Regions from separate parts of the Homo sapiens genome. Here regions 1, 3 and 4 are each linked to region 2. Evidence: fine-mapped expression QTL. A gene starts in region 2. Each other region holds a variant in brackets. All regions are shown on one strand. Distances are between the middles of the regions.

Region 1 (5,672 bases), 36 kb after region 2:
AGCTGCCCAGGTCGCCCTCGGTCTCAGCTGAGTGGCCACAGGGACATTGGCCCCTCTTGCCCCAAGTCCCCAAACCCAGCCCATGTGTAACCACCTCAGACCCTGAATCCATTCACCCTCCCCAGGCCACCTTCGGGGATGGCATATCTGTCCCCTCCTGAGATCAATCCGGGCCTGGGGTCAGGAGAGGCCGCAGGGGCAGTCCTGAGGTCGGTGTCCCGCATGCACCTGGGTGCAGGTGCACGGCACAGAGGGCACAGAGCCCAGGAGGGAGAGAACAGGTGCAGGGTGCGGGGTTACCTGAGGTCGAGGCACGGGGAGCTGGAGCCCGTCTGCACCAGCAGCAGCCTCTCTTCCTGGAGCGCAGAGCTGCCAGATACAAGGTGGTCAGTGCCCCCAGGAGCTCCCAGTTCAGTGACAATCCCCATGGCCCACTCTGCCCAGCTGGTGCCCCTCCCCATCAAGGCCCCCCCAGCACTGCCCGCCAACACTCACTGCACGACAGGGTCCATGCCCGCAATACGCTCTGCCACGATGAGGGACTCGCTGTGGGTCACGTCGTTCAGGGCGGGGCCTGAGTTGCACGCCAGGATGACCTGCAGGAGGAGGGCCCAGGCTCTTTAGGAACCTGTGCTGGCCCAGCATGGAGCCTGCGTGCACCCCGGCCTTCGAGTGGCTGGGCTGGGTGAGGGTGCTGTGCCCAGCGGGCCTGGCCAGCCACCTGCTGCTGAGGAGCAGGGACCTCGCCTGACCTTGCCACTCTGTGGCCCCTGGGAGGGAGCTGAGCCGAGGGGCAGAGCTGAGTTTAGAGCCTGCCCCTGGGACCTGCCTGTCTGTGAAGTCACAGCCCCAAAGCCTCCTTGCTGTGAGCACCCTTCCAGGAGCCTGGCGTCAACCCTGGGCTTCAGCACATGGACCCTCAGCCTGAGCCCAGGGGGCTCGGAGCCTCCACCCCAGCAGATGACGGCTCTGGGCCGCCTCCCCCGTGCTGCTGCCTGCACCTACCTGCTGCGTCCGGAGGAGCCCCGACCACCGCCAGAGGCCCACAGCGGCGCCAACCCCACCGAGAGCAGAGAAGCCCAGGGGAAGGGCCCCACCCACCACCTCAACACTCACCTCTGTCCCTCTAAGGAGTAGCTCCCTGACAAAGGGGAAGACTCCCAAAATGATGTCTATTCCACTGTTATCTGCGAAAATTAAGGCACATTTATGAGGGGGCCCCTGTAAGACAAAACCAGGACGTTCAGTTGGGAACAGGCGCATCCAAGCGAGTCAGTCCGCACCCCTGCTGCCCGTCACGCTGCCCTGCAGGGGCCGAGACTGGGGGCTTCAGGGCCCCAGAGATGCCAGGGATGGGCTGTCCTGCAGGGGCCGAGACCAGGGGCTTCAGGGCCCCAGAGGTGCCGGGACTGGGCTGGGCTGCAGGGGCTGAGACCGGGACTTCAGGACCCCAGAGGCACCGGGACGGGCCAGCCTGCAGGGGCTGAGACTGGGGCTTCAGGACCCCAGAGGCGCCAGGGACGGATTGGCCTGCAGGGGCCAGTGCCTGTCTCTTCTGGCAAGGCTTTGTGCCTAGAGCAGGTGACCTAAGAAGCAGTCACGACAGGAGGGCAAGTGTGGGGCAGGGGATGCTGAGACCCTTGGCTCGCAGGATGGTGAGACTCTAACAGGAGGGGAGGGCCACCCGAGGCAGCCCATGCCCACCTCCCTCCAGTGACCACCCCCCCGGGCCCCGCTGTGTCCCCAGCAGCAGAGGTGGGAGGCCCCTCCACATACCTTTAATCTCTGAAGCCACTCGCTGTAGGAATCCACGAGCCAGGGTCTTTCTGAGACAGAGAGAGGGACACATGATTAGCCCGGTGCTCCAGGTCAGGGGTCAGGGAGACGCGTCTTCAGGTGTTCGTCTCTCCAGGAAGCAAGTTCTCCCCGCCCCCGAAGCCCAGCTGACAGAGCCTTGAGCAGGGGAGGTGCCTGGACCCCGACCGCAACTGCATTCGCTGTTGCAGAGAACGTCCAGGCATGGCCCCAGCACAAGGCAAGGCCCCAAGTTACTTGGCCATCCGTACCTTGTAACTTCCTCTTTGCTTCTTCAAACCCAAAGTAGGGGTCGGATTCAAGGACACTGCATGGAGGAGGAGAAAAGAAAATTAAGACAACAGAACAAAAACCTTCAGCCACAGTGCTCAATGTGAAGACCCCAAATCCCTCCCAGGCGGGACAGAGGCAGCTGCTCAATGTAAAGATCCCAAATCCCTCCCAGGTGGGACAGGGGCAGCTGCTCAACGTGAAGACCCCAAATCACTCCCAGGCAGGACAGAGGCAGCTGCTAAGACCCCAAATCCCTCCCAGGTGGGACAGAGGCAGCTGCTCAACGTGAAGACCCCAAATCACTCCCAGGCAGAACAGATACAGCGTTCTTAACATGCTGCGATCCGCAGAAGGCTCAGGGGGCCACCAAGCAAAGGTCTGAGAGAGCACAGGCTGTTTCTCAAGGTGGACTCGGAGCCACGGGGCCAGGGAAGCCTCTCGGTGACTGGCAGCCGCAGTATGGTCCCTGTGCTTGGCACCCATGCAGGCGGTGTGGGGAGCCCCCAGCCACAAGGCCAATCCCATGGGTCAGGACCCTCCTCCAATGCTCCTGACAGGCTGCGGGA[G/A]GGGCCTGTGTCCCAGAGGGGCAGCCATGGTTGGAGGCGGCGTTCTCATCTATGTCTCGAGACACGAGTGGGACCCAGGGAGGGCTGAGAACCCAGGCATTTCCCTCCAGCCCCACATGAAAAAAAGCAGGGACCACGAGAGGTGGTGCGGCCGCCTGGGGAGGCCCAGAGACTGGAAGCAGCTTCTTTGGGAGTGAAGGTAAATGATGGTGGGGGGGTTCATTTTCAAGATTCAGAGCCCCAGGAGACGGCGCCAGGTGCTAGACACCTGCGTGTCCTACAGGCCAGTCTAGGGGACTGCTTTGCAAAGCACCCTTTGATCATCACATCAGAAATGTTTAATTCCTACCACACATAGGAAACATGAATTTGGATTCTGACAATAGAAAATGCCAGCCCCGATTTTCAAATCCACACCCTTAGGCCTCTGCGGCACCCATGCTTAAGGAAGGGGCCTCCTCAGAACCTGAGGGGACAGACAAGGGCGCTGCGCCCTGCCCAGCCCCTGGCGCTGCTGCCATGTGCACTCCCTGGGCCCCAAAGCCCTGAGCCACCAAGCCACCAAGCGCCACGTGACCCCCAAGGGACCCGCTCCACCTCCTTGCCCGCAAGCCTGGGGCAGGACAGGCACCCACAGGCTGCAGAGCCTGCTCCGAGCCCGCAGACACCTACGCAGACACGGCTTTGGCCCCCCAGTCGAAGACATTCCCCGCCAGGAGGCCTTTCACCAGCGCCAGCTGCCGTTCCTCCCAGCCCAGCGCGTCCAGGGAGCGCACGACCCCGGGGAAGCACCTCAGCGCCACGCCATTCTCCCGCTGCTTCACCTGTGGAGAGTGCCAGATGCCAGGCCTGAGTGAAGACGTGGCCTCAGCCCACCCTGGACACCTGCCAGGCGCAGCCTGTTCCATACCACGCCCCTCAGGATCGAAGACTCAGGCCCAACTGGGACCCCACCAGGCACAAGCCTATCGGTCCGGGACAGTGGCCAGCGCACAGCTGCACGGGGCTCTGAGGACGAGGCCCAGGACAACTTCAGCCCCCATGTGACTGAGCAGTGGGTGAAGGGCAGGACAAGAGTGGAGGACACGGCCCCCACAGGTACCCACAGCCCTGGCCTCAAAACCCTCGACACCCAGACTTCCGCTGTCACAAGGCTCGGCGTGTGAGGGGAGGGAGGCATGGCGCTGGCCCTTCCCAGAAGAGGTGGGAGGAGTCCATGCCTCCGCTGCTGCCCGCTGCCTCCTGGCAGAAAGGGCCAAGGAGGGCTCTGGCCGCCAGACTTGGGGAAGCAAAACGGACGCCCGGAAAGGCCCACCTTGCACGGCCCTGCACGTTGCCGGGATAGGAGGCCTCTGGTCACTGTCCAGCCTCCTAGGAGGGAGCCAGGGTGGTCCAGGGTTCCAGCCCCTCCCCATGAGGGGAAAGCAGTCCCCAACCACAATCGCCCACCCTCACAGAAGCTGGGAGGCCCTTGGCTCCTGCAGGCAGGCAGCCTGTGTCTGTCAGGAACACATCCAAACTGGGGTTCACACCCTTCTTCTCTAGTCACAGCAGTCCCCACCCCTAAGTGGCCCCAGCATCTGTGGGGGTAACACAGCTCCTCAGCAGATGCTGCCAACAGAGGCCCTGGCTATTGTGGTGCCAGGGCTGGAGTTGGGGCCGCTACCAAACCTGCATGGCCTCAGACAGGACAGGATGCCCCGAGCCAGCGGGACAGAGACAGGACACGCGGTGCCAGCGGGACGGGGACAAGAGCGAGCGGAAGGCCAGGGCACACTGCACTTACTTTGGAGTAGGGATCCGGGAAGTTGAACTCGTTCAGACAGTGCTCCCTGGTGTCCAGCAGGCTGCGCACGGTCAGGGTCCCATAGGCGCTGGGGACAGACACGGCAGAGGGCGCTGAGCAGGGCAGGCCGAACACCCGCCCGTCTGCCATCCTCGGCTGTGCCACGGACGTCCTCAGGAGCCCGGCAGTGCAAACGCTGCTTGAGGCGGGGTCCAAGGGGGCTGTGCCGCCAGGGCCCACACCCACCCCCAGCGAGCTGGGGTCCGAATGCCAACATCACGGCACTTTCTCAGAGGTGCAGGGGCCCTCTGGATGGAAGAGGTGGCCACACACCGGGGTGCTGGGCACTTACAAGGGCTGCTGCCTCAGGGTCTGAAGCTTGTTCCAGTACTTCTGCCGGAACTTCTCCGCCCTCTCGGCTGCATCCACAGAGTCTGGCTGGCTCGCCACTGCGCGCTTCACTACCTGCCAGCGACAGAAGGAGGGGGTTAGTCAAGCGCTGGCCCTGCTGCTTGCGAATCCCCACGTGACAGCAGGGGGCTCGGGGAAGGGTGGGGGTCGGCCGTGGGGGACTGTCTGGGGCAGGGTGGGGGCGGCTGTAGGAGGCCTGGTGCAGGGTGGGAGCCGGCTGTCGGGGGCTGTTTGGGGCAGGGTGGGGGCTAGCTATGGGGGGCTTCCCGGGGCAGGGTCAGGGCCTGCTGTGGGGGACTCGGGCAGGGTGGGGGCTGCCTGGGCTGTGGTCAGGGCAGTTTCTACTGGAACAGGAAAGGCTGACGGTGACAGTTCACGGTCACCCGAGGCTTCCCTTTGCCATTCGCCCCTCCCAGTTGCCCTGGGAGGCAGGAGCAGGAGTGACCTTGGTCCCTCACCCCCCAGGAAACCCGAGGCCAAGACCCACGTCCTCAGACTCGAGCCCCCATCCTGTGCCGGGGACGAGGGGCTCTGGGCACTCAGAGCTCACTCCGGGTCCTGGGCAGGGCTGGGACTCCTCCCTCAGGACAAACCCTGGCACGACCCGGCCTCTCCGAGGGCTTCGTGAAGAGTGCGTGTTGCTACCGGGGCTCCCTGGCCCCGAGCTGAGCTCCTGAGGGGCAGCGTGGCCCAGGGCCTGGCATTTGCTCCACGGGACCAGCCCAGCCTTGGAGAAGGTGGGACGCAGGAGTCCCAAGGTGGCCTCGCCGGGAGCTTGCTGGGGCTGAGTCTCACCCCACCCCCAGAGTCAGGGTCCCACA
Region 2 (5,672 bases):
TCCCTCCCTGTCCACCTGTGTCCAGCCAGCGCCTGCTACGTGTTGGATCATGGCCTCACAGGGACAGAGCAGGGAGGAGGACTTCGAGGTCCCTGCCCCAGGGATGTCCCGGGGTCAGGCAGTGCTCTGAGGACTGGGGAGCCCCACTGTGCTGTGCAGGGACCTGGGGGAGCAGCAGGTGAGCCAGGGCCCTCCTCTCCCCGACGGAGCCTATATCTGCCCGACCAGGACTGCCGGCCCTTCCCAGTCTGGCCTCTGGTGTGGGCCCACAGCCAGGTGCATTGCTACAATCCCACCTGAGCTCCCACATCAGGTGTCCTGGCTCAGGCTCACGGGAGGGGCCGAGGCGGCCTGGGGGTGGGTGTGGACCATGGCTGAGGGCTGGGCCCCTGTGTGGAACCACAGAGCAGAGCGTGGCTTCTTCGGCCTCCCTGTGGGCTTTCAGGATGGCCGGGCCCTGGCTCAGGGCAGGCAGGGTGAGCATGAGGGCCCGTCAGTGCAGGCTGTGGGGCTGGGCTCGCCTGCCGGCATGGGGGTGGGGCAGCCCCCTCCGTGACCTTGTGTGGGGGCTGGGCTGGGCCCTGGGCCGGCTCACAGGCAGCACGTGGGGAGGGGTTCTTAAGTCTCTGGGCCTGGGCCCCTGCCACGTCTCTTGGCCCGGGGCACCCCCGGCTTCACGCTGCAGCTGCGGTTCTGTGTCTGCCTGAGTTTTGGAGGGGAGTGGGCGGTCCCTTTGGACCTCAGGGCAGGCAGGGCAGCCCCCGGCAGAGGCCTGTGTCAGGAAGGGATTAGCCAGGCCTCCACCCGCCTGGACAGTTGAGGATTCCAGCTCTGCTGCTGAGGAGGTCAGGGGGCCTGGGGTGCAGGAGCCTGGGACCCACGTTGTGGGGCTGGGGCCAGGCACTCTATGTGTGGCTCCTCTCAGAACCCCTGCCCAGGCAGATGGCGGCCTCCAAGCCCTAACCCCAGCTGATGGGGGATCAGCTAGTGGCTGAGAGCTCAAGGGAGGGAGGGAGGGAGCAGAGGCCCAGCCTTGGGGAGCTTCAAGGAGGGATGGGTGAGAGACGGGAGCACCCCCAGCTGGGGCCAGGCCCAGGGTGAGGGAACAGCAGGTGTGTCCCAGGCCAGGAGGCCTCTGAGGTGCAGGAAGGAGAACTGGACCCCCTGGGTCAGAGTGGAAGCCCGCAGCAGCCCAGTATGAGGTGGGCAGGGGCCCTGGGCCAGGGCTATGGCCGTCTGGTCTGTCTCCAGGCCCTCAGGCCACCTCCTGGCCCCTGCGCTGCCCCTTACACGGTGGCCTTCCCCGAGGCCCTGTCTTCCTGAGGACGCCCGGGACTCCAGCCCCTCTCCTCTCCCTGCAGCTCATGGCTCCCTAATCTAATTCCACGGCAGAGCCCAGAAACGCCTGCTGACCTGCTTCCGCCGAGAGCAGCAGAGCCTGTGACGGGGCCCCTGGTGGGGGCCTGGGTTGGCTCTGTGCTGACTGCATCTGATCTGGCTGGGTGTGGCCCTGGTTGTCAGTGGTCAGCTGGAGACGCATGGCCATCTCCTCAGGGACTGCCACCTCCCACGCCTGACCTTGGCCCCGGGGCTCTGCCAGGATGCCCAGCCCTGGCACCTCCCTGTCCTGGGCTCTGCAGGCCAAACTCCTCCCCTGGTATGGGGGGAGGCGAGCAGCTGCCCGGAACCTTCCAGTCCTTGTTGCTGGAGCCAGTAGAGCCTGGGCAGTGGGTGGGAAGAAGGGCGGGGTTCTCCCCAGTGTGGTCACGAAGCATGGGCATGGCCAGGACACAGGTGGCTGGTGTTCAGCCGGGGTCTGCCCACCTCCCATTCCCACAGCTGCCCCTGGTGTCCCGGCCTGGACTTGGGGATGGGAGAGCCTGTGCTGTCCTGTAGTGCGGGGCCAGTACACAGGGTGGGCTGTGTGGTCCTGGTGGCAGTGGGACCTGGAGTCCTTTCCTCAGTGGGAGCTGAGACGGTGGGGTGGGTCCTCCTTGGGCGAGGCCCCTGTCCAGGTCAGATGGCTGTCATCCCTGCAGGGCAGAATGTGGGGACAAACGTGCCCTGGGCATGGGGCCACCTCCTCCGCCACAGCTCGGTGACCGTGGAGAAAGGTCAGGCTGGGGCTGCAGCTGCATGAGGGAGACATGGAGAGCCCAACCCAGGCTCAGGGACCCACATCCTGGGCCTGGGCTGGGAGTTGTCGCTGTAAGGGATCCGGCTCGGCTCCCCTCTCCAGCCACAGGGGCTGGGCGCTGCGGGGATGAGGTGAGCTTCTGCCCCTGCTCTGGGCCACCTGCCTCTGGACTTTGGGGATCCACTCAGAGGTCCTCATAAGTAGGGATGCGGGGTGAGGGCAGGGACCACTCCAGGCCCAGCCTCGGCATCTGTGGTGGGCGCACAGCGGGGAGGCCCACCCCACACAGGGTCCTCGGAGGACAGTACCCTGCAGGCCTTCCGGTTGCGTTCTCTGGGTCCCAGGAGGGCCCTCCCGTTGGTCCTGCTCTTGTCCCGCAGCCCTGACCTGGGTCTGGTGGCCTGGGGCCTTGGGAAACTCTGTTGCCTCCCCAGTGCCCTCCCATCCCCAGCTGGGAGTTCCCTCGGCCTAAATCCTCCACCAGCTGGGCTGGAGCTGGGATTAGCACAGGGATTGGGCCTGGGGCTGGGCGGGGCTGAGGTCCTTTGCTCCCCCAGCCTTGGGAGGCGGCTGCGTCAGGGATTCCTTGGTGGCCCTGGAGGGTGGATAGGCTGGCCTGGGGGCCATCAGGACAGCAGGTGACGGTCAGGCCAATGCCAGCCGGGCCTGGGCACAGCCCTGTGGGGGCTTCGGAGGGCCCTGAGGAGGAGGAGGAAGAGGCAGAGGAGAGAAGGCCCCACGGAGGTCCTGTCGCCAGCGCTGCCACTGCCTGACCTCCGCTGCCCGAAGGCCGGTGGGCCTCTGTGGCCTCCGTGAAGCAGGCCCGGCTGTCGTCAGGCCATGTCTGGTCCATGGCCCTCCCCCGACAGCCGGACCAAGGGAACGGTGGCCTGGCTGGCGGAGGTACTCCTCTGGGTTGGAGGGAGTGTGGTGCTGTCTTCAGAGTGGCAGCTCGGCCCCCTGGGTAAGAAGGGGCAGGCGAGTGGCCTGGGCTGAGTGCTGGCCCTGGCCAGGTGACTGGTGGGTGGGGGCTGTTCCTGGAGGTGGGGGAAGCCTGGGCCTCCATCCCATCCTGCACTCGCCTCCCCTGTCCCCCGGGTGCTCTAGGGATCATGTGGGTCCAGCAGCGTCGGCTGGCCCTGCCCCTCAGCCGCTCAGAGGCGTGCTCAGCACACCTCGGTCTCCCAGGCACCTGCAGGGCCTGGGGGCTGAACCCAAGGGGGCGAGGGGGGATCTCAGGTGGCTCCAATGCTCTCATTGAAGGGGTGCCTTGTGCTCTGGGGGTCAGTGGTGCTTGCAGCCCAGGCGGCTGGGCTGGCATCCTGGTGCCGGACATGAGGGCCTTTGCCGTTAGGAGACTCTGCAGAGGAGACTGGCTGGGTATGGCTGGGAGGGTGGAGTGTGTGTCTTGTGGTGGCCTGTGGAGGGCCCCGGTCCGGGCTGGCCTGCCAGCTCTCTGTTCCAGCGGCAGACAGGGTCCTGTCCAGGCTGCCCTGTTGCAGGCCTCTGCCCGCCCCCTGCCCCTGTGTCCTGCCTCACCCCTCTCCTAAATCCCTGCAGCCATACCTGCGTCTTCACCTCCCATGTGCCCCGGAGAGCCCAGCCCCCCATGCCATGGCTTCCATCCCTTCAATTCCCCTCTGCTCGTGATCACGTAGTAGCTTCCCCAAGAAGGCCCGGCCAGTACTGCCCTTGGTCCTCTACAACGCCCCCGCCAGGGTCCCTCAGCGTGCAGACCTGGGGTGGGGATTAACGTCTCTGTGCTTTAGCAGATGGTACCTCTGGGACCCGGGCTTTCTGTGAGCAGGTGTGCAGGAACCGAGGGGGTGAGACCAGTCTGTTCCTGGGCTGGGACAGCTGACTCTGGCCTGGACTCCCTGGACCCTGCAGCCCCCTCTCCTGGGACAAGCTACAGCAGGAGGCTGAATGGAGAGAGGAGGGGAGAGAAGGAGCGAGGCAGGCAGCCTGGGGGAGGGGAGGGGAGGGGTTGTGAAGCTCGGATCCGGCACCACAGCCTCCCAAGTCCATACTGCAGTGCAGGGCGTGCGACGCAGACATTCATGGCACCATTCGTGGCGCTTGTTGCACATGAGGGGTGGGGGCTTTCCTGGAGATGCCCCAGGCAGGGGCACAGGCACTCAGGAATTCGACCGCTCCCAGGAGCCACCTGTGGCCAGGGGCGGGGGCAGGGGCATGGGGTTGCTGCCTGCTAGGCCCACCCCGCCCCTGACAAGGGGCCTCCACTGCACTATGGCCCCAGACAGCCAGCCCAGCCACCTCATCTGTCTTGCCTCGTGCCCGGCCTTCCCATTGTTGAGTTCTGTGCTGGCTCCGTCTGAGTGGTAGCTCTCGGGGCCCCAGGCCCAGCGCCGGTTACCAGGGCTGCTAGGACTGGTCCAGGAGGTGGTGGGAGTGGCAGGTGGCCGAGCAGGGTGGGGAGCAGGGCCCTCAGTTCCCAGGACCATCTGGGGAGGAGTGGCAGGGCCCAGCTGAGCTGTGTGACCCAGGCAAGCCGGCACCTGGGGTGGAGGTGGCCCTGGGCTCTGGCCTTTGCCCTGTCACTGGCAGGGCGGTGTGGGCGGGGCCGGGCGAGGTGAGGAGTGGCCGTGCCTCCGCTGACGGCCGTGTTTCTCCCGTGAGGAGTGGCCGTGCCTCCGCTGACGGCCGTGTCTCTCCTGCGAGGAGTGGCTGTGCCTCCGCTGACAGCCGTGTCTCTCCCGTGTCCAGTGGAGCGGTGCATGGGTGCCATGCAAGAGGGGATGCAGATGGTGAAGCTGCGTGGCGGCTCCAAGGGCCTGGTCCGCTTCTACTACCTGGACGAGCACCGCTCCTGCATCCGCTGGAGGCCCTCACGCAAGAACGAGAAGGCCAAGAGTGAGTGGGAGCCCTGGGGTGGGGACAAATCAGAGTCCCTGGGGGGACACGACGGTAGGGACCCTCCCAGGGCAGCCACTGATGGCTGAGGAGCAGCGAGACCCTAGGCCTGGACACCTCTGGGCTCAGTGGCCTTGGGGATCTGCAGTGACCTCGGGCTGTGGGGTAGGAGGGATCCAGGCCCCCTGCCCGCCTGGCAGAGCTCCCTGGGACTCAGTGAGGACCGAGTAGCACTGTGCCCAGCCCTGTGCTGAGTGCTGGGCTGGAAGGAGGGGCACAGCATAGTCCATCTAGCTGGGGAGGTCACAGCTCCCCATAAACAGAAACGACCCCCACAGAGGTATGCTGATGGATGGGTATGGGTGCAAACAGTGGCTCAGGCAGCCACTGGGCATGGCTGCTGGAGGGAGCAGGGGCCACCCGAGATGGAGGCTCTGTGCAGGGGGTGGGTGGGGAGAGTTGAGGCACACAGGGAACGGGTAGGGTCCCACGGTTTGGGGAGAGACATGGCAGTCCTCAAGGGCTGGGATCAGGGCGCAGCCAGGGTTTCTGATGGCTTTGCTGATGGTCAGGACCCAGGCATGCCAGGCAAGGCCTCAGCCCAGCAGTTGCCAAGCGTGTAGCCACTTTGGGCCCGTGGAGAGAGTCGCGCTGCGGAGCC
Region 3 (5,672 bases), 43 kb before region 2:
TTTACCTATGAGGGGCAGTGAAGCTGGGCTGCAATGCAGCGCCTGCCAGCAGGGGTCACTGGGCACACACTGTGCTCCCTCCCCCGAGTTATGCACCTGCCTGGACAGACCTCACCCACCAACTCCCTCTGGCCTTCTTGCTCTCTCTAGGTGTGTGATGCGCTGCTGGCCCAGGCTACACCCCGACAAGGGACACCGGGGGCCCCGGGAGCAGAGAGACCTCAGAGCAGCCTCCTCCTGCCTCCTGTGGACGGCCGGCCCCAGCTGGTGATCCCAGCCAGTCCCAGCTTTCAGTTGCTGCCCCCACCGACAGTCCTCAGTCCCTCCATGATGGCTCCCCCGACAGCCGGCCCCCTTCCTGGCCCAGCTCTTCCGCCTGAGGACCCAGGGCCGGATCCGGAGAGCAGGTGGCTTTTCTTGAGCGCCAACATTCTGCCCGTGGGTGAGTGAGGCCCTGGCTACCCACACCAAGCCAGAGAACATTGTTCTTCTCCTGCTGAGTGCGTCTCTGTTTCCTGGAGCCCAGGGACAATACGGTTCAGGGTTCAGTTCAGTGACCCTGATGTCCCGTGATGTCACCTGGGGAGAACTGGGGCTCTGCTAGCACCCCAGGGCAGGTGGGGCCGCCACGTGCAGAGGAGCCTGGCGTGCAATTCAAGAGCTCTCAGTGTGTGTCCCTTCGTGTGGGCAGAGAGGGGGTGGGTTCATTCTTGGGGGATGGCTCTCTGCCCACCTGCTGCACTGGGGGGGTCTGGGAGAGGTGCCCCTGCAGCTCACGATGCTTCCTTCTTGGTCGTGTTGTCACTGTCAGAAGGGCGAAGGCCTCCCGATGTGGCGGACAGCTCTGGGGTCTAGTGTGGAGACTTTGGGGTGTGGAGCTGGTCCCCTGAGCTCCTGAGCTTCTGCTGGGATGCCCTGGAGTGGCAGGCCTGTGGCTGGCTGCCCTGCGTGTGCGTGTGCGTGTGTGTGTGTGTGCACACCGCTATCTGCCGCTTCTGCTCCCCCTGGGGGCCCCTGCTGCTCTCTGGGCGGCCGCTCCCAGGCAAGAACCATGGCAGTGGTGAGCGTGTGTGCGTGTGTGCGTGTGTCTGCCTGCACTCGTGAGGGTCTGCACCTGTGCCTACATGGTGTGTGCCCAAGTGCGTGTGTGTGTGTGTGTGCTCATGCTCTGTGCATGCCTGTGCCTCACAGAGGTGGCTCCGGCTTGTCAATGCCACATTCTCCAGATATGCCCAGACAGGTCTTCGCCATCTGAGGGTGGAGCTGCGCCTGGGGAGCTGCACACAGCCCCTGCCGGGCTTGGGGCCCTGGCTTTCAGCGCTGTCTGGAATGGACACCGGGGAAAGGGGAGACCAGATGGGGGAGGGGAGCAAGCTGCGCCCCCTTCTCCAGAGCTTCCAGAGTCCTGGAGAGCTTCCAACTCTGGCAGGGCCTGGGGGCGGGAGGAGCCAGCGGTCCTATATGCAGAAACAGTATCAGGTCCAGGGGCAACGGTTCCCAGGATAGAGGACTCCTGCTGTGTACCCTTCTGCTGCTGGCCCTGCCCCTCATCACAGTCCCTGCCTCTCCGTTCCTACCCCTTGTTACTGTCCCCGCCCCATGCCTGGGTGGTGGATGCTGAGGGAGGGCAGTCTTGTGCTGGGTGCTGGGCCTACCCTCATCCTGGGGGCCTTTCTGGGAGGCTCCTTCTTGGTTGAGCCGGAATCGTGTCCCTTTCCTTTGAGTCGGTGCCTGCCCCCACTGATGCCAGCTCAGTTACCTGTGCACATTAGGGTGGTGGTTGGCAAGGTGCCCCGGGTGGTGTGGGCCTCTGGCCTGCTCCAGGACAGGCTCGGCTCTGCCTGTTGGGTTTCGGGGTCCCAGACTGGGGGGCTTGTATGGAGCCTCGTGCATTTACCAGGCGTCAGCTTCGTGCTGCCTCCTCTGGGACTCACGGCCATGGCTGCCCACAGTGAGGCCAGGCCCCACTCTGCAGATGAGGCGGTGAGGACCCCACAATGCTGGGGCTGGCACCTGGCTGCCGACTCTCTCATCTTCCTGGCTCACACCCTCAGCCCTGAAGCGGTGGGCAGTGATGGGGATGGGGGTCAGGTCCGCTTGGGAGTGCAGCTTGGGGGTGAATAACTGAGCACTCCGGCTGGGACTGGGGCAGGTGGACAGCAGGGGGCCCAGGTTGGGGGCCGTGGGACAGCACTGGGGCCAGCCCCCTGCCCTGCTGGCCCCTCATGGCTGACAGCACACCCCGTCCCCTGTGCAATTTGCCTTACCCCAGTTCTTGTGTATCCGTGGTAACGGGCTTTCATTTAGAGCAGCTTGATCCAGCTCCTGGGGCTAACGGGTGGGGGAGAATGCAAATGACTGCTGGGCACGTGGCCGGGCCCATGGCACAGGCTGGGGTGTGCACCCGGCCCCCACACTCAGCGCCCTGGGCCCGGGGGCCCCTGCTGGGCATGATGAGGGTCTGAGCTGCCCAGACAGTGCACTCTCCAGGCTCTGGGAGCCTTCACTCCTGATCCCTGAGCCTCTCAGTGCCTGGGGCCGGATGCCAGAGGTGGAGGGTCAGAGCCCGCCGTGCAGGCTTGCCTGGACGGACACCGCCGCCCTCCCACAGCAGGGAGGGTCCCCAACTCCCCCGTCCGGAGGGGCTGTCACAGGAGCTGCCCCTGGGAGGCGCCTGGAGGTCTTTCCCGTCCGTCAGGTGGGGAGGGGTCTGTGGCAGTGCTCCCTTCTCTTCCCGGTGCACACACGGGCTGGGTGGAAGAACCTGGGCACCCTGCCTGCCTGTTACCCACCAGTGCCCATGGCTGAGCTTCAAGTGCCCACCCTTTGCCCCCTCCCATCCCTGAGGTTGGGGCCGTGTTTCCCTCTGGGAGGATCGAAC[A/G]GCTTGGATGTGGGGCCCCACTGAACTCAGAGGTGGGAGCCTTCTTCAGGCTGCCCCCTAATACTGAGCCAGCAAAGGTAAATGGGGGTCCTCCTTCCACTCTTCCCCTTCCAGATTGGCTCCCGGCCCCCGCTGTGTACGTGCTCAGGTGTCCGGGGAGGACCAGTGTGCTGTGGTGTGGGTGGTGGTGCTGGGAGCAGAGGCAGGCAGGTTTTGTGGGGCTGACTGCATGTGCACCTGGGGCTGCTGGTGGCCTGGCCTCCCTGGCATCTCCATGTGGATGAGGCTGGCAGCATGGCCCTACTTGGCCGGGGGCTGCTGAGGCCCATCCGGGCCGGTGTGCTCCTGTCCCCTGGAGTACTCCAGCGGGAGGCTGTGGCTCTTGGGGTTCAGGGCTGCTGGAGTATGTGTCCCCGCCATTCTCACTGAGCTGGAGCTGGAGCGGCTCAGTCTCGGTGCCTTGAGGCTGGCACAGGTGGGAACGGTGTGTCCGCACAGCAGGAGCCTCCCCGGGGGCTTTCTGACTTCAAAGTGCACTCAGATCTGCGTTTTCCTTCGGACTCTACACCGGCTCTTATGTTGGCGGCTCTTGTATGTTTCTTTTTTCCCTGATCATGAAAGCAAGACTCACTCAGAGGAGATGCTTTGGAAAATACAGAAAAAGACAAGGGAGAAAATCAGACCAGCCATTGCCATCCACCTCTCCCCGCTCCTTCGTGGCTTTGGGTGCCTGGGTTAGGCAGAGCCCCTGCCGGCTCCCCAAACCCCCTCAGAGCCATCGACTCCCTCCACGGATGTGCCCACACTGGGGGTCCCGGGTGATGTTGGCCGTTTGGTCCCTTCAAACGTTTGAATTTTCCCCTGGAGCCCGGCTTTGAGTGTCTGCCTCATGCTCCGAAGGGCAGCAGTGCAGTCTCCCCGGGCACCCAGGAAACTCGACGAGCTGCTGCCATCAACATCGCAGGAGGTTCCTTCACAGGCATCGCGCGTCCGGCTTCGTGGCGGGTCTCCCGTTGTTTCCTTGGAGGCTGCGGGTCTCCCTGGGTGGCGTTTGATGTATGTGCACCGAGCTCTTTGAGGCTCCCACCTTCAGCTTCTTACTGAGCAACCAAGGGAGGTGGCTGGGTGTGCCAGGGGCCGGCGGGGGCCGCGCCTGGGCAGGGGGCACCGCGCCTTCCCCAGGTCAGTCCCTGCCTGAAGCCAGGTCAGAGGCTTTTCTAGAAGGAGGCAGGACACACGGACTCACCTTCACAGCCGTTTACAACCTGGGAAGGTGGCCCCAGCTCCTTGTGCCGTGGGGCCCCTTCTCTCCCGGGCACCCACAGGGCCTCTGGCAGGGGCGTATTTCCCCCACGCACAGGTTCCTTATCTGTCTCCTCAGCTGTATCCAGAATGCAGTCTGGTTGTGGAAAGCAAAATTAAACACTGCCTTTGTAGACAAAGCAGCTGCCGCCAGGTGCGGGCGGCACAAGCTCTGTCACTGGCCTCGGGGGCCCTGACTCTCCTTTGAGATGCAGAACCCTGGACACTGGGCCGTGGGACCCTCCAGTCCCGGAAGGGCCAAGTGTGGCAAGGGCCTGGCTTCCAGCAACCCCCTTCCCCCCACAGCCAGCAGAGGAGCCCCAGGCTGCCCGGGCTGCCAGCCGCACTAAAAGTGGGGAGAGCCTCGCCGGTTGTGTCCCCACTCTGGGGCCATGCAAGCTCCTCTCCCTGGTGCCACGTGCACTGATGATGTGCTTCACCTGGAAATCGAGGCTCCCCGTGGAAACCACCCCCGGGCAGAATCAGCTGTGGGTTGCGTATGTCCTCGGGCGCCCATGCTGTACCCAGGCTGCCCAGGAGAGCTGAGCCCGCACGGGAAGGCAGGCCCCTAGAAGTGTGTCCCCGTGGCCCAGAGCTGGCTTCTCAGGGGGGATTTGTTCTGAGAAGTCCGTGGCCTGCGAGCCTCAGCATGCAGCAGGCCGGGCAGAACACCGGGGCGCAGGGACTTGGCTTTGTCAGCAGCAGGAGGCAGGTGCACTGACCTGGATGGTCCTGCCTGGGCTGCAGAGAAGTGGGCAGTCCAGGAGCTCTGCTGGGAGGAGGAGTGGAGCTCACCAGGACGAAGGAGAGCATGTGGAAGATGGTCCCGGGGGTGAGGACCTTTCCTCCAGGAACCCCTGTCACCTGCGGACAGTGAGCAGGCCAGAGGCCGGGCAGGGGCTGTGGGGGGTGGGGCCCGGTTGCTGCCTCTTGCAGGGAGGGCACCTGGGCTCGGGGTGTTTCCTCAGAGAGGATAGGGAAGTGAGGCTCACGCCCAGGGGTCCCCGGGCTCTGGGCTGACCAGCGCTCTCACACCACCCTGGGTAGTCAGAGGGCACCAGCAAAGCTGTTTTAGGTTCCAAATGGCTGGAGGCTGGAGGCTGGAGGCTGGAGGCTGGAGGCATGTGTTAGTGAGGCGGGGATAGCAGGCGCAGGGGCCTCTCTTTGCAGGGACTGGGGAAGGGGCCAGGGACCTCAATGGGGTCCCTGGGGAGGACAGAGGTGGGAATAGTTGCTGGCTGGCAGGGCCCGAGTGCAGCGTGACACGGCTCTCAGAGCCCACAGCACGCCTGGCCTGTTGTGATCTCCAGGAGGGGAGACTGGGTTTCCAGGGTCCTTTGATGGCTGTGGAGTACAGCCAGGGTGGAGAAGATGATGAACTGTGGGCAGCTGGGGTCCAGAGCCCCTGCGATGGGAGGCTCAGCTCAGTCTGGAGTGAGCCCCCACACCTGGGGGGCTCAGCTGGGAACACCTGGTCTGTCCAGTGTGG
Region 4 (5,672 bases), 27 kb after region 2:
GCCCCTGCCGTCTATCCACCCATCTGTTCCTCGTCCCCCAGGCTGCAGGGCTCCCCACGCCACTGCTGTGGCCGCCTCACCTGCTCCCCCTGTCTCTTTGGTCTTGCAGTCGGCTTCTCTATGGCCACAGCCTACTTTTAGAAGTGCAGCTCTGTTAGGAGCCTTGAAGGTACCCGGTGCGCGGGACAGTGCGGCCCGCCGCCCCTGCATGCCCAGGCCGCACCCCATTAGCATCCATGATTCCTGGTAGCATTTGGAGACTGTCGCTCATGTGACGTGGATCATGACATGGCTCCGGGGGCCCTGGCCATCCCCAGCCATAGTGGCATTTACGAGGCAGATCCAGGGTTCAGCTGGGTGGCCGCCTTCTCACTGGCCTCTCCTCCCCTCCCCTCCCTCAGTCCTCCCTCCCCTCCCTCAGTCCTCCCTCCCCTCCCTCAGTCCTCCCTCCCCTCCCTCAGTCCTCCCTCCCCTCCCTCAGCCCCTTCCCTGGCGGGCAGCCCGCTGGAGCCCCCACTGTGCCCCTCCTATCCCCCTCCTTCTCTCTCCTGCCCCCATCTCGGACCCTCAGGCTGTTGGTTCTGAGTTCGCCTCCCACTCCCTCCCTGTCCTTGCCAACCATGCCAGTGCATGGGATGAGGGCACCCCTGAGGCCGGCGCTCCGAGCCAGAATCCCGGATCTGCTTCTAAATGGCTTCCCAGCCACTGTGACCAAATGCGTAGATTTGGGATCTTGAATCAGGAAGCTGATTCAAGTGCTGGCCATCTGAACGCATCTGCCCAGAGGCGCCCCTGCAGGGGGGTGACCCACCTGCCGGGCCTGGGCCGCTCTGTGCACGAGCACGGCTCGTCATGGGGGCGCGGTGGGTGCTGTCTCGGGGGCATCTGGCATGTGAGGGCCCCTCTGGCCTCTGCGCCCTGGAGATGCGGCTGCCTCCCTCTCAGCAGCTGTTCTGCCCAGGCAGGGACCTCCTGGGCCCAGCTGTCCAGGAAGATTGGCTGTGGCCAGGTGCTGGTGGGCTGGGAGTCTGAGCCCATCTTGGCAGGGCTCAGGGGGCAGCAAGCCAGCTGCGGGCCTTGGGGGCTCACATGAGTGGAGGGCAGGGCAAGACCAGAAAAGGCTGCCTGGGGGAATTCAGGAAGGCTTCCTGGAAGAGGTGGTACTTCCTAGGGCACGAGTATCACCATGGGAGTGGGCAGGACACGGGCCGGGCAAGTGGGCCTCCCGCTGCACCTGGCTACTCCTGCTGTGGACCAGCTACTCCTGCCTGAGGGTGGGGCACACACAACCAGGGAGTGCCACGCCAGTGTCCCCTGCTAGCGCCGGGGGCTGCGGGCCTCTGAGCAGGTGCAGGCTGTGGTGGGCCAGGCTGGGGCTCGAGGTCTCTCCTCCGGAGGGAAAGACCTTCTCTCCATGCCCCTCAAGGGCCCCACATGCCCTGGACAGGTCAGGCGAGGGCAGTTTCTGCCGGAAGGGTGGGGTGGGCCATGTGTACTTAGATCTGTAGCAGCTACTGTCCCAGGCAGAGCTGCCCTAGGGACCCTGCTCCTGAAGGCCCTGGTGTGTCCACACACCCCCAGCCTGAGGTGGCCCAGCCCCTCGGACCGAGACACGCATGGCACGTCTGTGGCACGGTCTGGAGAGCTGGCCCTGGGGGAGCAGCTGCAGCTGGGCTGGGACCCCTGGCAACAGCTACATGGGCTCCTTCTCTTGCAGGTCAAGCAGGCTCTGGGCCTAAAAGGCCTCTTCCTCCGAGGCCCAAAGCCCGGCTCGCTGGACAGTCATGCTGCTGGGCGGCCCCCGGCCCGGCCCTCCGTTAGCCAGCGGATCCTGCGGCGCACGGCCAGCGCCCCGACCAAGAGCCAGAAGCCGGGCCGCAGGGGCTTCCCGGAGCTGGTCCTGGGTACACGGGACACAGGCTCCAAGGGGGTGGCAGACGATGTGGTGCCCCCCGGGCCCGGACCTGCTCCGGAAGCCCCAGCCCAGGAGGGGCCCGGCAGCGGCAGCCCCCGAGGTAAGGCGCCAGCTGCGGTGGCAGAGAAGAGCCCTGTGCGAGTGCGGCCCCCGCGTGTCCTGGACGGCCCCGGGCCTGCTGGGATGGCCGCCACATGCATGAAGTGTGTGGTGGGATCCTGCGCCGGCGTGAACACCGGGGGCCTGCAGAGGGAGCGGCCACCCAGCCCGGGGCCTGCAAGCAGGCAGGCAGCCATTCGCCAGCAGCCCCGGGCCCGGGCTGACTCACTGGGGGCCCCCTGCTGTGGCCTGGACCCTCACGCTATCCCGGGGAGAAGCAGAGAGGCCCCCAAGGGTCCTGGGGCCTGGAGGCAGGGTCCAGGCGGTAGCGGCTCCATGTCCTCGGACTCCAGCAGCCCAGACAGCCCGGGCATCCCCGAAAGGTCCCCCCGCTGGCCTGAGGGTGCCTGCAGGCAACCGGGGGCCCTGCAGGGAGAGATGAGTGCCTTGTTTGCTCAAAAGCTGGAGGAGATCAGGAGTAAATCCCCCATGTTCTCCGCCGGTAAGCCCCTCTTGCCCTGCGTGGTCCTCCCGCACGCCCCTGGCATGGCTGGGCCTGGGTCACCTGCTGCTGCTTCTGCGTGGACGGTGTCGCCTCGTGTGCTCGTGCTCGTGGCTCTGTATCCGTGGCACTGTCTCCGTGGCACTCTGCTCCCTTGGCTTGCCTGTGGCCCATAGCCCCAGCCCTCCTGTCTGAGCTTGAGGCCCTGGGACTTGGGTGGAGCTGGTTTGAGGCCCGACAGGCTGGGAAGAACCAGCTGCTCTTGCTGAGGGTCTGGGGCCGGGACTGTGGCCTGACATGCTGGGCCCCTCCGGCTGGGCGCTTCCCCAAACTCACCTCCTGGGCGGCTGGCGACCTGCATGGCCCCTGATGCCTTTCCTGGGACTGGGGGCCA[C/T]GTACCATCCCATTCCCACCTCCCTCTAGGGCAGGCTCCAGGGGTCCCTACTGGGAAGTCTGATGTGGGCAGGTAGTGCAGCTGCTGGGCGTCTCCTGCGCCCCTGGGACGCCTGGAGCCTGCTGAGTGCTGCGTGGAGTAGATTCCCTGGGCCCCAGGGCTTCGCTGCTTTGGGCTGAAGCACCCCACTAGAAGGGTGTCTCCTTAGCCTGGAGGGAGGGACATACACGGAGCCCGCCCCACACCACCCTGCCCCTCCAGACCCCCCTGACCAAGCTTTCCTTTCTGCCCCCACCCACGCTGCCTCCGTAGTTAGGAACTGAGAGCGGCGAGTGACAGGTAACGGGGCCCAGCCCCGGTGTCCCGTGCTGTCCCAGCCCAAGGAGGGCCCCGTGTGCGGCACAGGGCGTGGACTGGGCCCCAGCAGCAGCAGGGTGGGGACACCGAGTGTGCCGCGCCCGGGGGATGCCTCGGGGTGGGAGCTGGGCCTGGCGACCCTCGGCACAGGGCACCGGGGACACCACCCTGATCCGACTCCTCTCCGCCTCTCTCCCTGCCTCCCTCTCTCTCTTCTGCTTCTCCCTCTGGCTCTCTCTCACTCCCCCACCTCCCCACAGACACCCGCCCCCTCTCCACGCAGCGGCCACTCCCCCCACTGTGCAGCCTGGAAACCATCGCTGAGGAGCCCGCCCCAGGCCCTGGTCCCCCGCCACCAGCGGCTGTCCCCACCAGCTCTTCTCAGGGACGGCCCCCATACCCCACAGGACCCGGAGCCAATGTGGCAAGCCCCCTAGAGGACACTGAGGAGCCCCGAGACAGCAGGCCTCGGCCGTGCAACGGCGAGGGCGCCGGCGGGGCATACGAGAGGGCCCCCGGCAGCCAGACGGACGGCAGGAGCCAGCCCCGGACCCTGGGCCACCTGCCCGTGATTAGAAGGGTGAAGAGTGAGGGGCAGGTGCCCACGGAGCCCCTGGGAGGGTGGCGGCCCCTGGCCGCTCCCTTTCCAGCTCCTGCCGTGTACTCCGATGCCACGGGCAGTGACCCGCTGTGGCAGCGGCTGGAGCCATGTGGCCACCGAGACAGCGTTTCCTCCTCCTCCAGCATGTCATCCAGCGACACTGTCATTGACCTCTCCCTGCCCAGCCTGGGCCTGGGCCGCAGCCGTGAGAACCTCGCTGGAGCCCACATGGGACGCCTGCCCCCCAGGCCCCACTCGGCTTCGGCTGCCCGCCCAGACCTGCCACCTGTGACCAAGAGCAAATCCAACCCCAACCTTCGGGCTACAGGCCAGCGGCCTCCCATACCTGACGAACTGCAGCCCAGGTCCCTGGCCCCAAGGATGGCTGGCCTCCCCTTCCGGCCTCCCTGGGGCTGCCTTTCCCTGGTGGGCGTGCAGGACTGCCCCGTGGCTGCCAAGTCCAAGAGCCTGGGCGACCTCACTGCTGATGACTTTGCCCCTAGCTTTGAGGGCGGCTCCCGCAGACTGAGCCACAGCCTGGGCCTCCCGGGAGGGACACGGCGGGTGTCGGGGCCAGGGGTGAGACGGGACACCCTGACAGAGCAGCTGCGCTGGCTCACTGTCTTCCAGCAGGCAGGAGACATCACGTCACCCACCAGCCTGGGCCCGGCTGGGGAGGGGGTGGCAGGGGGCCCTGGTTTTGTGCGGCGCTCCTCCTCCCGCAGCCACAGCCGCGTGCGTGCCATTGCCAGCCGGGCCCGCCAGGCCCAGGAGCGGCAGCAGAGACTGCAGGGCCTGGGCCGGCAGGGACCCCCAGAAGAGGAGCGGGGCACCCCCGAGGGCGCCTGCTCCGTGGGCCACGAGGGCAGTGTGGATGCACCAGCACCCTCCAAGGGAGCCCTCGGGCCAGCATCCGCGGCTGCTGAAAACCTGGTCCTGCTCCGCCTCTGACCGTCAGTGGTGGGAACCTGGGCGGCTCTGGAGGCCCAGGGCAGGGGTGGGCGTGTTGTTTGCTCAGGAAACAGGGCAGCCAGGCCCCCAAAACTGTGTCCCCCTGGCTGCCCTGTGTCCCCTCCACCCCTGCCTCCCTCCTGCCCCTGCTCCCGGGGAGGAAAGGCTAAAGCTGCTGGCCCGGGGCCCACAGGAGGGGCTTCGAGGCTGGCCCTGCCAGGCAGTTTTCCCGGCGTTTTAGGATCTGTACATAGAGAAATATTTAAATTTTTAGAAGCAAAACTTATACAACATTAAAATGATACCAAGTCCCTTTCCATTTTTACCTGGTTTTTCACCCCAGGTGTGTGTGGTGTGCATCTGTGCGCACCTGTCCTGAGCCTGCCCCGGGAGGCGCGGCTGACCTGGCCACGGCACAGGCGGGGGTGCTTGTGAGGCACCAGGGCTGCTCAGGACGGCCGTCTGGGCCTTGCCCTGAAGCCTGTATCTGCCTTGCACCGACCACGCCACCCTCTGCACCATGCCTAAGCCTCTGTCAACTCCCAAACGTGGTTCTGATAAACGTGCTCACCAGCACGCATGGGCTTCCCGTTCGCTCAGCCTCCTGTGCCACTTACTTACCAGGTGCCCGTCGGAGCCTGCGCCAGGCCCAGAAGACACCCCAAGAAAAGACCTGGCCTGTCCTCAGAGGGCTGAGCTGGACAGGCTCCCAGGGTAGGCTGCAAAGCCTGCTCCTCAGGACGCAGGCCCTAACCCCGGGCCACAGGCCCCCCAACCCGGGGGACTGCTCTGCCTGCAGAGCATGGTGGTTCCAGAAAGGCCCCTACCCTAGAGAAGCTGGGGTGCTGGTCGG

Which allele goes with the higher level. Alleles are on the strand shown, and positions count from the first base shown. SD is a standard deviation of normalised expression in the study named. Not every link is listed here.
With allele G in place of A in region 1, the expression in cerebellar hemisphere of the gene that starts at base 2,678 in region 2 is higher (moderate effect, 0.53 SD a copy in GTEx).

Evidence for each region. PIP is the estimated chance that this variant, and not a neighbour inherited with it, causes the effect. A credible set is the group of variants that fine-mapping cannot tell apart.
Region 1: its variant is the best candidate, but not a certain one, in a credible set for the expression of PLCH2 in cerebellar hemisphere (GTEx, PIP 0.59).
Region 3: its variant is the best candidate, but not a certain one, in a credible set for the expression of PLCH2 in lung (TOPMed, PIP 0.88).
Region 4: its variant is the best candidate, but not a certain one, in a credible set for the expression of PLCH2 in whole blood (TOPMed, PIP 0.65).

The regions. Positions count from the first base shown.
Region 1 is chr1:2,509,562-2,515,233 of GRCh38, forward strand. PANK4 (pantothenate kinase 4 (inactive)) reads right to left here. Exons shown (of 19, transcript NM_018216.4): 11 at 4,793-4,905; 12 at 4,441-4,528; 13 at 3,327-3,478; 14 at 2,067-2,122; 15 at 1,777-1,826; 16 at 1,117-1,221; 17 at 496-596; 18 at 301-369. Among named protein-coding and RNA genes, the nearest start is that of PANK4, 14 kb to the right of the region's middle. The variant G/A (reference allele first, on the strand shown) is at 2,655.
Region 2 is chr1:2,473,612-2,479,283 of GRCh38, forward strand. It overlaps PLCH2 (phospholipase C eta 2), which reads left to right and starts at 2,678. Exons shown (of 22, transcript NM_014638.4): 1 at 2,678-3,101; 2 at 4,865-5,011. The coding sequence starts at 2,978.
Region 3 is chr1:2,430,188-2,435,859 of GRCh38, forward strand. It overlaps a transcript of PLCH2 not described here. Among named protein-coding and RNA genes, the nearest start is that of PEX10, 20 kb to the left of the region's middle. RefSeq lists a silencer at 1-161. The variant A/G (reference allele first, on the strand shown) is at 2,882.
Region 4 is chr1:2,500,395-2,506,066 of GRCh38, forward strand. PLCH2 (phospholipase C eta 2) reads left to right here. Exons shown (of 22, transcript NM_014638.4): 21 at 1,718-2,015; 22 at 3,528-5,138. The coding sequence ends at 4,819. Among named protein-coding and RNA genes, the nearest start is that of PANK4, 23 kb to the right of the region's middle. The variant C/T (reference allele first, on the strand shown) is at 2,911.